Homo sapiens: one gene and its partners. The protein of the gene in region 2 interacts with the protein of the main gene of each other region in a pairwise test. Each region holds a gene or a part of one and is shown on either strand. Other genes may lie near its edges.

Region 1 (3,652 bases), on a different chromosome or scaffold from region 2:
TGAGGCAGGGCCTCTTACCTCTGAGCCTCGCTTTCCTTCTCTTGGCAGTGCATCTGGAGGATCCTCAGTGCCTCTGTGGGGAAGGAACCAAGGGGACCCTTTGAGAGCTCTTGGGGAGTCAGGGTTGGCCAGAGGTAATAGGCCCCACATCATGTCAGGCATTGGAGGGCACTGTGAGGACTTGGGTGTTTACTCCAAGTGATGTAGCAATCCAGGAAGAGATCTGTGCAGAGAGGGAAGCACCCTGCCTTAGGTTTCAGTGGGATTCCTCTGGCTGCTCTGAGGAGCATAGACTTTTGTGGGGTGGAAGAGTAGAATAAGGAAGACACAGCAACTGGTAAATACCTTGCTTTTTGCCCAAGACCTCCTCTAGGTGCACTTTCTCTCCATTCACTGGAAAACACAATGACACTTTCTGCCTCCAGGCACCCCATTGCCATCCCCAGTGCAACTTCATATAAGGGGAAAGCCACACAGAAGGTGTAGTACAGCCCTAGGAGAGGTGAGGTATCTTCTTGCCACCCTTGCAACCATCTCCCAGAAGGACCATCCTGATCCAGCTTCTCCCCCTCTATGCCCACATTCTTTGTAAATGTTGAAGGAGTGAAGACCCTGAAGAATGTACAAGGTTTACACTGAGGAGAAAGATGGCTATAAAGAAATACACACACAGTGTCAGGTGGACATAAAGGCTCTTAAGAAACAAATCAGCCAGGGGCGTGAGAATGACCAAGAGAGGGCGGGATTCTATTCTTAGATGAGACCATCAAGATAGGCCTATCAGGGTGAAATTTGAGCTGAGAGCTGAAAGATGACATGAGACAGTGAAAGGCAATACAGATTATGTGAGCTAAGAGCATTGTAGGCCAGGGAGCAGCCTGTGCAAAGGCCCTGAGGTATGCACAGGAACATCTGCAGTGTTGATGGGTCCCTCTTTTGGCCCCACTTACAGGAGTCTAATTCCCTATGCAGGGCCTCCCAGAGACTGTGGGTCTCTCTCAGTTCCTCACTGGATTTCTTCTTTGCTGGGCCAAGAAGGGAAAAAGACACTGTATGAGTGTAGTCTCTAGCCTTGCTGTTCTCTCGCAAATATGACATTGCACAGTCATCTTCAAACAACCCTAGAGGGGCCTAGATTTTATAGATGAGGAGGTGGATTCATTATAAATCCAGTCACTTCCTGCTCGCCCCAGCTGGCCAGTCTAAGTCCCCAAGTTTACCTTGCTGAAGATCATTAATCCGGCTAATCAGGTCCTCTATCTGTGGCTCCAGGCTTCCCTCTGAAGAAAGAAAGGAAGAAAGAGTGAGCCAGAGAAGACTGGTGTCTGGCTGTCCAAGGCAGACGGAGAAGCACTGTGTCTGCTGCTATCAATTAACCGGCATATATTGAGCGCCTGCTGTGTGTTGAGCTCTGCCAGAGCCCCTTGAAGGGCTTGCATTCTGGGTTGGCAAGATGGACATTGAGCAAAGATAAATAAATCAATTCAGGTGGCAGTAACTGCTGTGAAGAGAAATAAAGTGAGGCAAAGTGTTGAAGAGCAAAAGGGTAAAAGGCATGTCTGGGGATATGCAAAGGCCCCAGATGAGAAGAAGGAAGCAGGTCCTGCAGTTCTGTGGGGGTAAAGAGTATGGAGGGGGGACCCATTCCAGGCAGAGTGCAACAAGGCAGAGGGAACAAGTGCAAATTCCCTGTAGTGTGGCAGGAGCGGGTGAGGCACGTGTCCAAAGTAACAGTGAGGGGCTGGTGTGGCTCAGGTCTAGTGAGCAAGTGGAGAGTAGCAGAAAGTAAGGTGGGGGAAGTGGGAAGTGATATCACTAGGGCCTCTTGGGCCACCGTGGAAGCCTTTAGATGTAACTCTGAGTGTGGTGTGAGCCAATGGAGACGTCCCATCTGCCCCGCCCTGTCAAAATCCAGGCAGGAAGGGTTGTCACTCTGTCAGTCTGGGCTCTGGTACTGGCCTCATCTGAGAAATGGGGAATCCCTGCTTTTACACTGTTGGTGGCAGCTTGCAAGTTTCCCAGTGACAGGGTGATCACTATCCCTTTAGGGAATCACCTCTAACTTCTCATAGCCCCTGTTTCAGTGCTCTGTACGCAGAAGACTTCCTTCTCATCCCTCTCTGGCTTCAAGGTTGCCAACACGGAACTGGGGCAAAAAGCTGTCCAACCCTTGCCAGATCTCACTGCTGACCCCTCAGACACTCTGGGGTTAATAAACTCAGACCATGGATTTTTCCAAGGTCACCAACTCCAGCTTCTGTGATTTCCAGGAGAGTGGGTGCTCTCCACGGTGCTGATTATGACTGACAGAAATCTCTGGGGGTCTTTGTTTTACTGGAAATGATCAGGTTGGATCACTGCATTTCTAGCCCTGCAATTTCTCTCCCTAATTTTACCGTAGGCAGCAGTCCCAGTGCACTTCTTCTGCAGGCAGCCACAGAATGGGAGCGGGGAGGCTGCTGCTTTTGTTTGGAATAGACTGACGTGATAGTATTTTAAGATGAGAATGGGCTGGGGGTCTCACCTCTGGCCAGCACTGCCTCAGCTCTGATGTAGATACTGGGTGCACACTGGCTCCCAGGTTTCCCGCAAAAAGCAAAGCAAGGTGCAAAACCAACTGCATTTCCATTTGTGTGTAAAAAGGGAGGACAAAAAATATACATCCATGAATGCATTTTTTAAAAATCTCTGGAAAGATACTTAAGAATTGAAAAACAATAGCTGCTTGCCCATGAGTCAGGGAAATAGATGACTGGTGTGTGGGGGGAGGGAGTAGGGATGGCGGGGGAACTGGTTTTTCCATTCCTTTAAACTTCTTGAATTTTGAACTGTGGGACTGTATTCTTGGTTCAAAGAATTAAACTGTATAAGAGGGAGAAAGTGCAATGGGATAATTTCCTGAGGTTGTGAGTTCAGGGGGCTGAATTTGTACCATGTCTTTCTGACTTGAAACCCCAGGCTGAGGCTCAGAAACAAAGAGACACATGACCTTTCTGCAGCTTTATCACCATTGCCAGCAAGTCTTCAGTCTTCAAAGACTTGGCTTGCCCTGTAGAAAGGAAAATCAAAATTACAGGACACAGCGAGAGTGAGAGGGGAGAGAGAAGGGAGGCAGGAAGTCCCAGTGGGCTCTGCAGACACCCGTGGGCTGGGGCTAAGGATGGAATGACAGACAGGTTTCCATCTGAAGCAGGGCCCCCGTCTCTTGCCCTTGAGGTTTATAGTGTGTGCTAGATAAATCAGGACCCCTAAGGGTCAGCTTCTCCCTGAGGGGTTAAAAAACACCACCACAAACATCCCCTTAATGAAACTCAGGGGTGAGAGAAGAGAATGCATGTTTGCTGATGCTGCTGTTCAAGATCATTATGAAGTTCTAACCAGAACAATAGGGCAGGAAGATTTCATATGAATTTCTTTGAAATAATAATAGCTCATAATTTATAAATTCTTAATGAACTGATAGATCTAGGTAATAGTTACTAATGGCTACTAACATCAAAAAAAGACAACTGGATATTATGAGCCTCTCTCTTTTTCTTTTTATACCCTGCAGCTCCAGCTCAAAGGATTTTTATTTTTATTTTTAATATAGAGAGTTTGTTTCAGCTAAGTTTGAGGACTGCAGCTCAGGATGCACTTACAAGCTGCCTTG
Region 2 (3,652 bases):
CCAGGTAAAGGAAGAAGAAGAAAATGATTTTGTTATCAGCTGTCCTAAATGTTTTTCAAAACTTATCAAGACAGCATGCTGAATATTGGCTCCCAATCTCTTCTGGCAAAGACCTAAAAACAGAACTACCGTTTGACCCAGCAATCCTATTACTGGGTATATACTCAAAGGAATATAAACTGTTATATCCTAAAGACACATGCACACATTTGCTCATCACAGTGCTATTCACAATAGCAAAGACATAGAACCAACCTAAATGCCCATCAATGGTAGACCAGATAAAGAAAATGTGGTACATATGCCACAGACTATTATGCAGCCATAAAAAAGAATGAGGGCTGGGCGCGGTGGCTCACGCCTGTAATCCCAGCACTTTGGGAGGCCGAGGTGGGTGGATCATGAGGTCAGGAGATCGAGACCATCCTGGCTAACACGGTGAAACCCCGTCTCTACTAAAAATACAAAAAATTAGCCGGGCGCGGTGGCGGGCGCCTGTAGTCCCAGCTACTCGGGAGGCTGAGGCAGGAGAATGGCGTGAACCCGGGAAGCGGAGCTTGCAGTGAGCCGAGATTGCGCCACTGCAGTCCGCAGTCCGGCCTGGGCGACAGAGCGAGACTCCGTCTCAAAAAATAAAAAATAAAAAATAAAATAAAAAGAATGAGATCATATCCTTTGCAGGAACGTGGGTGGAGCTGGAGGTCATTATCCTTAGCAAACCAATGCAGGGACAGAAAACCAAATATCACATGTTCTCACTTATAAGTGGGAGCAAAATGATGAGGATACATGGACACATAGAGAAGAACAACACACACTGGAGCCTTTTGGAGGGTAGAGGATGGGAGGAGGGAGAGAATCAGGAAAAATAATAGGTACTAGGCTTAATACTTGGATAACAAAATAATCTGTACAACAACCCCCCATGACACAAGTTTACCTATAACAAACCTGTATGTGTAACCTTGAACTTAAAAGTTTAATAAAAGACAGCATGCTCAGTATATACACACATGACTATTCTCATGTTGGAATCATAAATTGTAAATAATGCCAAAGGCAACTAGGTTTGTGAGTTGGTATCATTTAGAACTGCAGTCTTATAACCCCCACCCCCCAAAAAAATAACAGACTGGCAGAGATAGAAGCCTCCAGTTTCCTTGAAATTTTACTTAAAAGCAGGACATAGGCTGGGCGCGGTGGCTCATGCCTGTAATCCCAGCACTTTGGGAGGCCAAAGCGGGTGGATCACGAGGTCAAGAGATCGAGACCACCTGGCCAACATGGTGATACCCTGTCTCTAATGAGAAGAAAAAAAAAAATTAGCCGGGCGTGGTGGTGCGCACATGTAGTCCCAACTACTCGGGAGGCTGAGGCAGGAGAATCACTTGAACCCGGGAGGCAGAGGTTGCAGTGAGCCAAGATCGTGCCACTGCACTCCAGCCTGGCGACAGAGCAAGACTCCATCTCAAAAAACAAACAAAAAAGCAGGACATAAAACTCTCCTAGGGAATTACACCACGAAATTGCTTCTGTTAGAAAAAAGTCAAGATGGCCTAAGAAGTATCATTCATTTGTTGGCAAAATCCCTGAACATAACATACTCCAGTGATAAATTTTCCAAAGGCACATTCAGAAACTTACAACATACAACAGATTATATCCTGAAAATCTGGTAACAGAAAATTGAGAAAATTTGAGTAAAGTATCAAAAAATACTTCAAAGTGCTTTATTTGATAATATATTAAGGGTAAAAGTTGATTTAAAATTATTTTTAAATATTTATTAACTCAACACCAAAGTGAGATTTTGAATTCTCAAATATAAATTGAAGAAAAATTTAGATGACAGAACATAACATACATAAATATAACTAACCTTTCAGTTAATGAAGTTGCTTCATTCTCTCTGGCTAATTCCAATAGCTTGACCAATTGGTTATGTTCTCGTTCTTTGATTTCAAGTAAGGCTCGTTTGCCTTCAACTTCCTTTATTACATTTTCCTTCTCATCCACTATAGCACTAACCTTGTTTTCAACTTTCTTTAGGGAGTCATTTAGCGTTTTGACTTCTTGTTCCAAGACAATTTTTTTCTTTTCCATTTCTCTGTAGGGGATACACACACACACACACACACACACACACACACACACACACACACACACACACACACACTTGCCTTATTTTGAGGCCATGCTGGCTTTACCTATTCTTGCTTTCTAACCATGCAGCAGAAGAGATAGTCATAAATTCAATGATCTCAGCAGTGGGTAAAGACCACAGATGGGTGGGACTTGGAGGGTATCTCCACTGAGTGCCACGGAAGGCAGGAATTTGCCCAGCCTCCCTACTTTCTGTGCAGATCCCAATTTGCTACCATCTCCTGTGATTCAACCCTCGTCCTGACCAGCCTCCTGAAACTGACCTGAGTTTCTCAACTTTGATGTTGGTGAGCTTAGTTTTTAGAACAGTTACTAGTGCCTGCCTAATTTTTCCCCTTAAGATTAGTCACCAGAGTAATTATATTATTTTTCCAGAATTTTTGTATCTTCACTTAAAATCTTTATCTTTTTTGGTTCCTTAAACACTGAGAATTTCCTCAATGACCTCTGCCTCCCAATCTACTCTGAATATCTGAGGAGTGTTATACACATGAATGGGTGGCAAAGTGGGGAGTTACTATTATTTGGGCTTTGGGCTGCTGCCTGGCTGATATACTTCTAGACTATGAAATTCTAACCAGTTCGCATAATTTATCCCATGCACCGCTCTGTTAAAGTCAATTGAACTTCTCCATAAAAATATGATTTATAAATTGGCAACAGAATCTTGACCCATAATTAAGCCATAAATACTATGAATGATAGAAATTTGGTGCATTACTTTCTTTTAAAGAACTTGATATAAACAACCTAGACAGGGCCCAAAGCAGAAATTTCTAAAATTATCATAGTAATTTAATGTGTCCAATGGTTAGTACTCTTGTTCTAGTGTGCACACATAACTTGGACTGGCAGGGATTCAAAGTAAAAATATTAAATCATACACTTTTTTGCGTGTTATTTTTTCTATCTCTTTTCCAATTTGTACTGGAATGGTTTGATGGTGGGCCACTTCATCCTAGTAAAGAAACGAAATCATGTTAAATTATGCGGTCTTCGGCTAGAAGCAATTAAGACAAGAAAATTAAATATGAGAGAGAAAGGAACTACAATATGTAGATACTTACCATCTGCCCTGTGTGCTTTAATTATCCCATTTAATACTCACGGTGACCTTGTAAGAGAGCTATATTTGTTATCATTTTGAAGAGGAGGTAACTGAGTGTAGCAAATACTGTTGGTCCTCTGCCCAGATTCCCTTTATGGAGGTACAGATGCTCCTCCACATACAATGGAGTGACGTCCCAATAAACCCGTTGTAAGTTGAAACTACCTTAAGTTGAAAATGCATTTAATACACCTAACCTACTGAAATCATAGCTTAGCCTAGCCTACATTCTCAGGACACTTTTATTAGTCTACAGTTCACCTAATACAAAGCTTATTATATAATAAAGTGTTGAGTGCCACACAGTAAATAAACATAACATATTGAATACTGTACAATAAATGTAATTTATTCAATACTGAAAATGAAAAACGGAATGGT
Region 3 (3,652 bases), on a different chromosome or scaffold from region 2:
TGAGGGGTTCAGAGAGGCTAACGTGCTTGCCCAAGGCCACACAGCTAGTAGGTGGCAGGGCTGGTTTTCAACCAAATCTGTTTGGAACAGAGCCTACTTTGTGTTGTTGTTGTTGTTATTTTTGTTTTTCTTTTTGCTTTGCTTTGTTTTTGAGATGGGATCTCACTCTGTTACTCAGGCTGGAGTGCAGTGGTGTGATCATGGCTCACCATAGACTCTACCTCCTGGACTCAAGCCATCCCTCCACCTCAGCCCCCTGAGGATCTGGGACTACAGGCATGTACCTACATGCCCAGCTAATTTTTTGATCTTTTTTTTTTGTAGAGATGGAGGTCTTGATATATTGCCCAGGCTGGTCTTGAATTCCTGGCTTTAAGTGATCCTCCCACCTTGGCCTCCCAAAGTATTGGGATTATAAGCAGAAGCACCTGGACAGAGACTAAGTTCTTCCACTCTCTCTGCTGCTTGTATCTTAGTCATCCCTGCTCTGGGCCACATGTACACAGAACCCATGGGGCAAAGGCATCAAGAAGCAAGACCTGGGGAGTTATTAACAGGAAACTGGACTTCAAATTCCTACACATCCCCTCTTTCCCTCACCCTCCCTCACCCCCGAAAAGCCTATAGAGATCATCACATCTTTTTTTTTTTGAGATAGAGTCTTGTTCTGTCGTCCAGGCTGGAGTGCAGTGGCGCAATCTCGGCTCACTGCAAACTCTGCCTCCCGGGTTCACGCCATTCTCTTGCCTCAGCCTCCCAAGTAGCTGGGACTACAGGCACCGGCCACCACGCCCCACTAATTTTTTGTATTTTTAGTAGAGATGAGGTTTCACCATGTTAGCCAGGATGGTCTCGATATCCTGACCTCGTGATCCACCCGCCTTGGCCTCCCAAAGTGCTGGGATTACAGGCGTGAGCCACCACGCCCGGCCCACCACATCTTCCTTAAGTTTTTTTTGTGAGAATTAAATGAGGCATGAGTACAAAGTCCCTGGGACAGTGTCTGTCATGGAACATGTCCTCTAGCCCAGATTGTGCCACTTGCTATTTAATATGGCCTGGGGACTGGGTGCAGCTTGGGGTACTTGGTGTTTCAACAAGCTAGCAATTATTGGGTTGACCCGAATTTTATATGCTCCTCAAGTGCTAATGGGTTGGGTTGGCCCTTGTTTTACATCACCTTGATTTTAGAAGCATGTGTTGGCTATTTTTTCTCCTACTCTTTTAGTACCAAGAGCCAATCTGATATTTTTAAATACCTGAAAGATGCCTCTTCCCAATTAATTACCTTGAAATTGTACTAGACTGAAATTAATTTGAGCCTTAAGGAGGGTTTCCGAGCCCTATTCTGCAGTCAGCCAGAGACCATGAACACTTGGGTTTCCTTTTTTCTACCTTCCCCTCCCTCCAGGTTCTTCTACCATTCTGAATTTTATTTATGAAACATTTTCCCTTCCTTTATAATTTTGTTTTCCATAAGAAGAACATCTAACAACCACCTCCTGGCTGGGCTAGAGTAATTGTTTGAATTTTTTGACATTGTGCAATTTCAAAGGCTTGAGTTTATATAGATTACTTTGAATTTATCTCCACAAGTGCATCGGGACAGAAGCTGCTGCCTGCTTCGTGAAGTATTGTAAGGCTTGTGGCCACTGAGTGCTGGCGTTTGTGTGGATAGCCTGTTTATCTAAATGGATTTCTGTAAAACATATACCCTAATAAGCCAGATTTTGCCAGCTTGTCCTGTGTAAGTACCTCATGATGTCCCCTGTGAATTTGTCAATACCAAGGTCAGCTGTGGTGGCTGGGCCCAGGGACAGGTGTGGAGAGCAGATCAGCTGACAGTCACGGTGCCCTCTTTCCCTCCTCCCAACTGGCCAGCTGTGAGCCAGGGGTGACAGGGCACAGGCAGACAGAGGAGAGGGCAGCGCCAGGGCTGGAGAGCCCATGTCTATCCAGGTGCTGGGAGGAGAGATGTCCAGCTGGGCAGACAGACAGGGCCCTGAACACCAGATGAAAGCCCTGCAAATGGCTGTGTTGAAAAGGGCAGAGGCCAGAGCCACCTATAAAGGGACTGTCTCCTCACGGTGACCCAGTCTGTGCCACAGAGAGATGGAACTTATAAGGCAAGCTGTAAAGCCTCCCATTCAAAGCCGTATATATTTATAGAGATATAAATGAAGTTTAATGCTGGTGAAACTCACTATAAAAGCAAAATACTTCATCTGTATCTACACTTCAGGTGCAGATCAATACAGGGCTTCCTGTCTTTCTGCAAATGAGAGCTGTCTGTGAGCACGTGTGCCCACTCGCTCACACGCAGCCCAGCTGCCTTGCTCTGGAGCCAGCCATGGGGTGGGAGGGACAGAGGTCTTTTGAGCATCTGCAAGTGAGGCGCCCAGCAATGATGCACTCCCCTTTTCTGCGAGGGCTGTTTAAAAACAGGAAGAAAAAAGAGAAAAAGGGAAAAGCACTGCCAAAACCAAGCGGCTTCAAACAGTCAGAAGCCTGGCTTTAAATAAAACAATTTGAGGCAGGTCAGCTTTTCATCTACCTTGGAAGCTGCCAGGTTCCTGCTCCTCAGAGCTCCAGATGGGATGTGACTGCAAAGCCCACCTGACCAGCTCCACCCTCTAAGTGTCTCCGCTGACCTTGCATCCCCTGCTGCCCATGCTGGCCAGGCAGAAACAGTCGATGAAACTCTGCCCAACAAGAGTTTGAATCTTGGCTCTGCCACTTACTAGCTGTGGAGACGTGGGGAAATCCATTGACTTCTCTGATCCTCAGTTTCCTCACCCATCAAATGGGGTAAATAGCTCCTACCTCTCAGAATAGCCATGTCTTTTAAATGAGATGTCATTTTCTACAAAAAGACTTACAACAGCCCTTAGCACATACAGATTCTGCAATTAATAGAGAACTCATTTTTTGGGAATTTCAGGCAGGAAGGGTGTATTTTGAGGCTGGAGATCAGGGGCACAAGGTTGCCCTCATCTATGTCAATATATGTTGACATACATTCTCCCCATGGAGTGGGGAGGCCCTATTTGGCCTGAGGCTGGCTGCAGGAACAAGACATTGCATTCTTGAGACAGGCAGTGGCCTTGAGCCCTGTTCCCTTCTCATACTGTCACCAGCAATCCCTGGCTGCAAGGCCTCTGAGCTCAAGGGAAGGTTGGCTGACCAAATAAGATAGCTCTTATCTCCATGAAGTTGCCCTTGGTGGGCCTGGCTATGTCCTCATAACTGACTCCCTCACAAGGCAAGAAGCAGGAGTGTAGCTCACCAGGGCATGGTTTCCCTGGGAAGTGTGTCTTGGGTGACTAGGGATGCCCTTCCAGACTGGACCCTCGAGAGGCCAGCAAATCATGCCAAGGGCTTAAGTTTCATTGTGGGCCACCCTCCAACCAGGAGCGGGGCCAGGTGAGATGTTCTGGAGGGGAGGAAAGCATGCTGTTGATCCAGACCCTGATCTGTTCCGAGTAGGGTGTGGGGAGGAGACCACTATCAGTCAATCTCTCATTAAAAATGGTCTGAGGCACTGTGCCTGAGTTATTAAAATGCAAAGCAAGAGTGTGCCATGCCCTCCCCTCTACCCCTACCCCTTTTTTTCGTTTGTGTTTTGTCAGCTTAATTTAGTGAGAATGAGAAA

Evidence for each region.
Region 1: the proteins of CCDC146 (region 2) and SYCE1L interact in a two-hybrid assay, tested with the Homo sapiens proteins (one large-scale study listed by BioGRID).
Region 3: the proteins of CCDC146 (region 2) and TNR interact in a two-hybrid assay, tested with the Homo sapiens proteins (one large-scale study listed by BioGRID).

What each region holds. Positions count from the first base shown.
Region 1 is NC_000016.10:77,205,838-77,209,489, reverse strand, and holds part of SYCE1L (synaptonemal complex central element protein 1-like), read right to left. Parts: intron 3,050-3,652; coding exon 2,990-3,049; intron 1,281-2,989; coding exon 1,221-1,280; intron 1,026-1,220; coding exon 951-1,025; intron 394-950; coding exon 346-393; intron 74-345; coding exon 19-73; intron 1-18. UniProt on the Homo sapiens protein: May be involved in meiosis.
Region 2 is NC_000007.14:77,258,464-77,262,115, reverse strand, and holds part of CCDC146 (coiled-coil domain-containing protein 146), read right to left. Parts: intron 3,122-3,652; coding exon 3,048-3,121; intron 2,108-3,047; coding exon 1,880-2,107; intron 1-1,879. UniProt on the Homo sapiens protein: Essential for sperm flagellum biogenesis and male fertility.
Region 3 is NC_000001.11:175,733,520-175,737,171, reverse strand, and holds part of TNR (tenascin-R isoform 1 precursor), read left to right. Parts: intron 1-3,652. UniProt on the Homo sapiens protein: Neural extracellular matrix (ECM) protein involved in interactions with different cells and matrix components.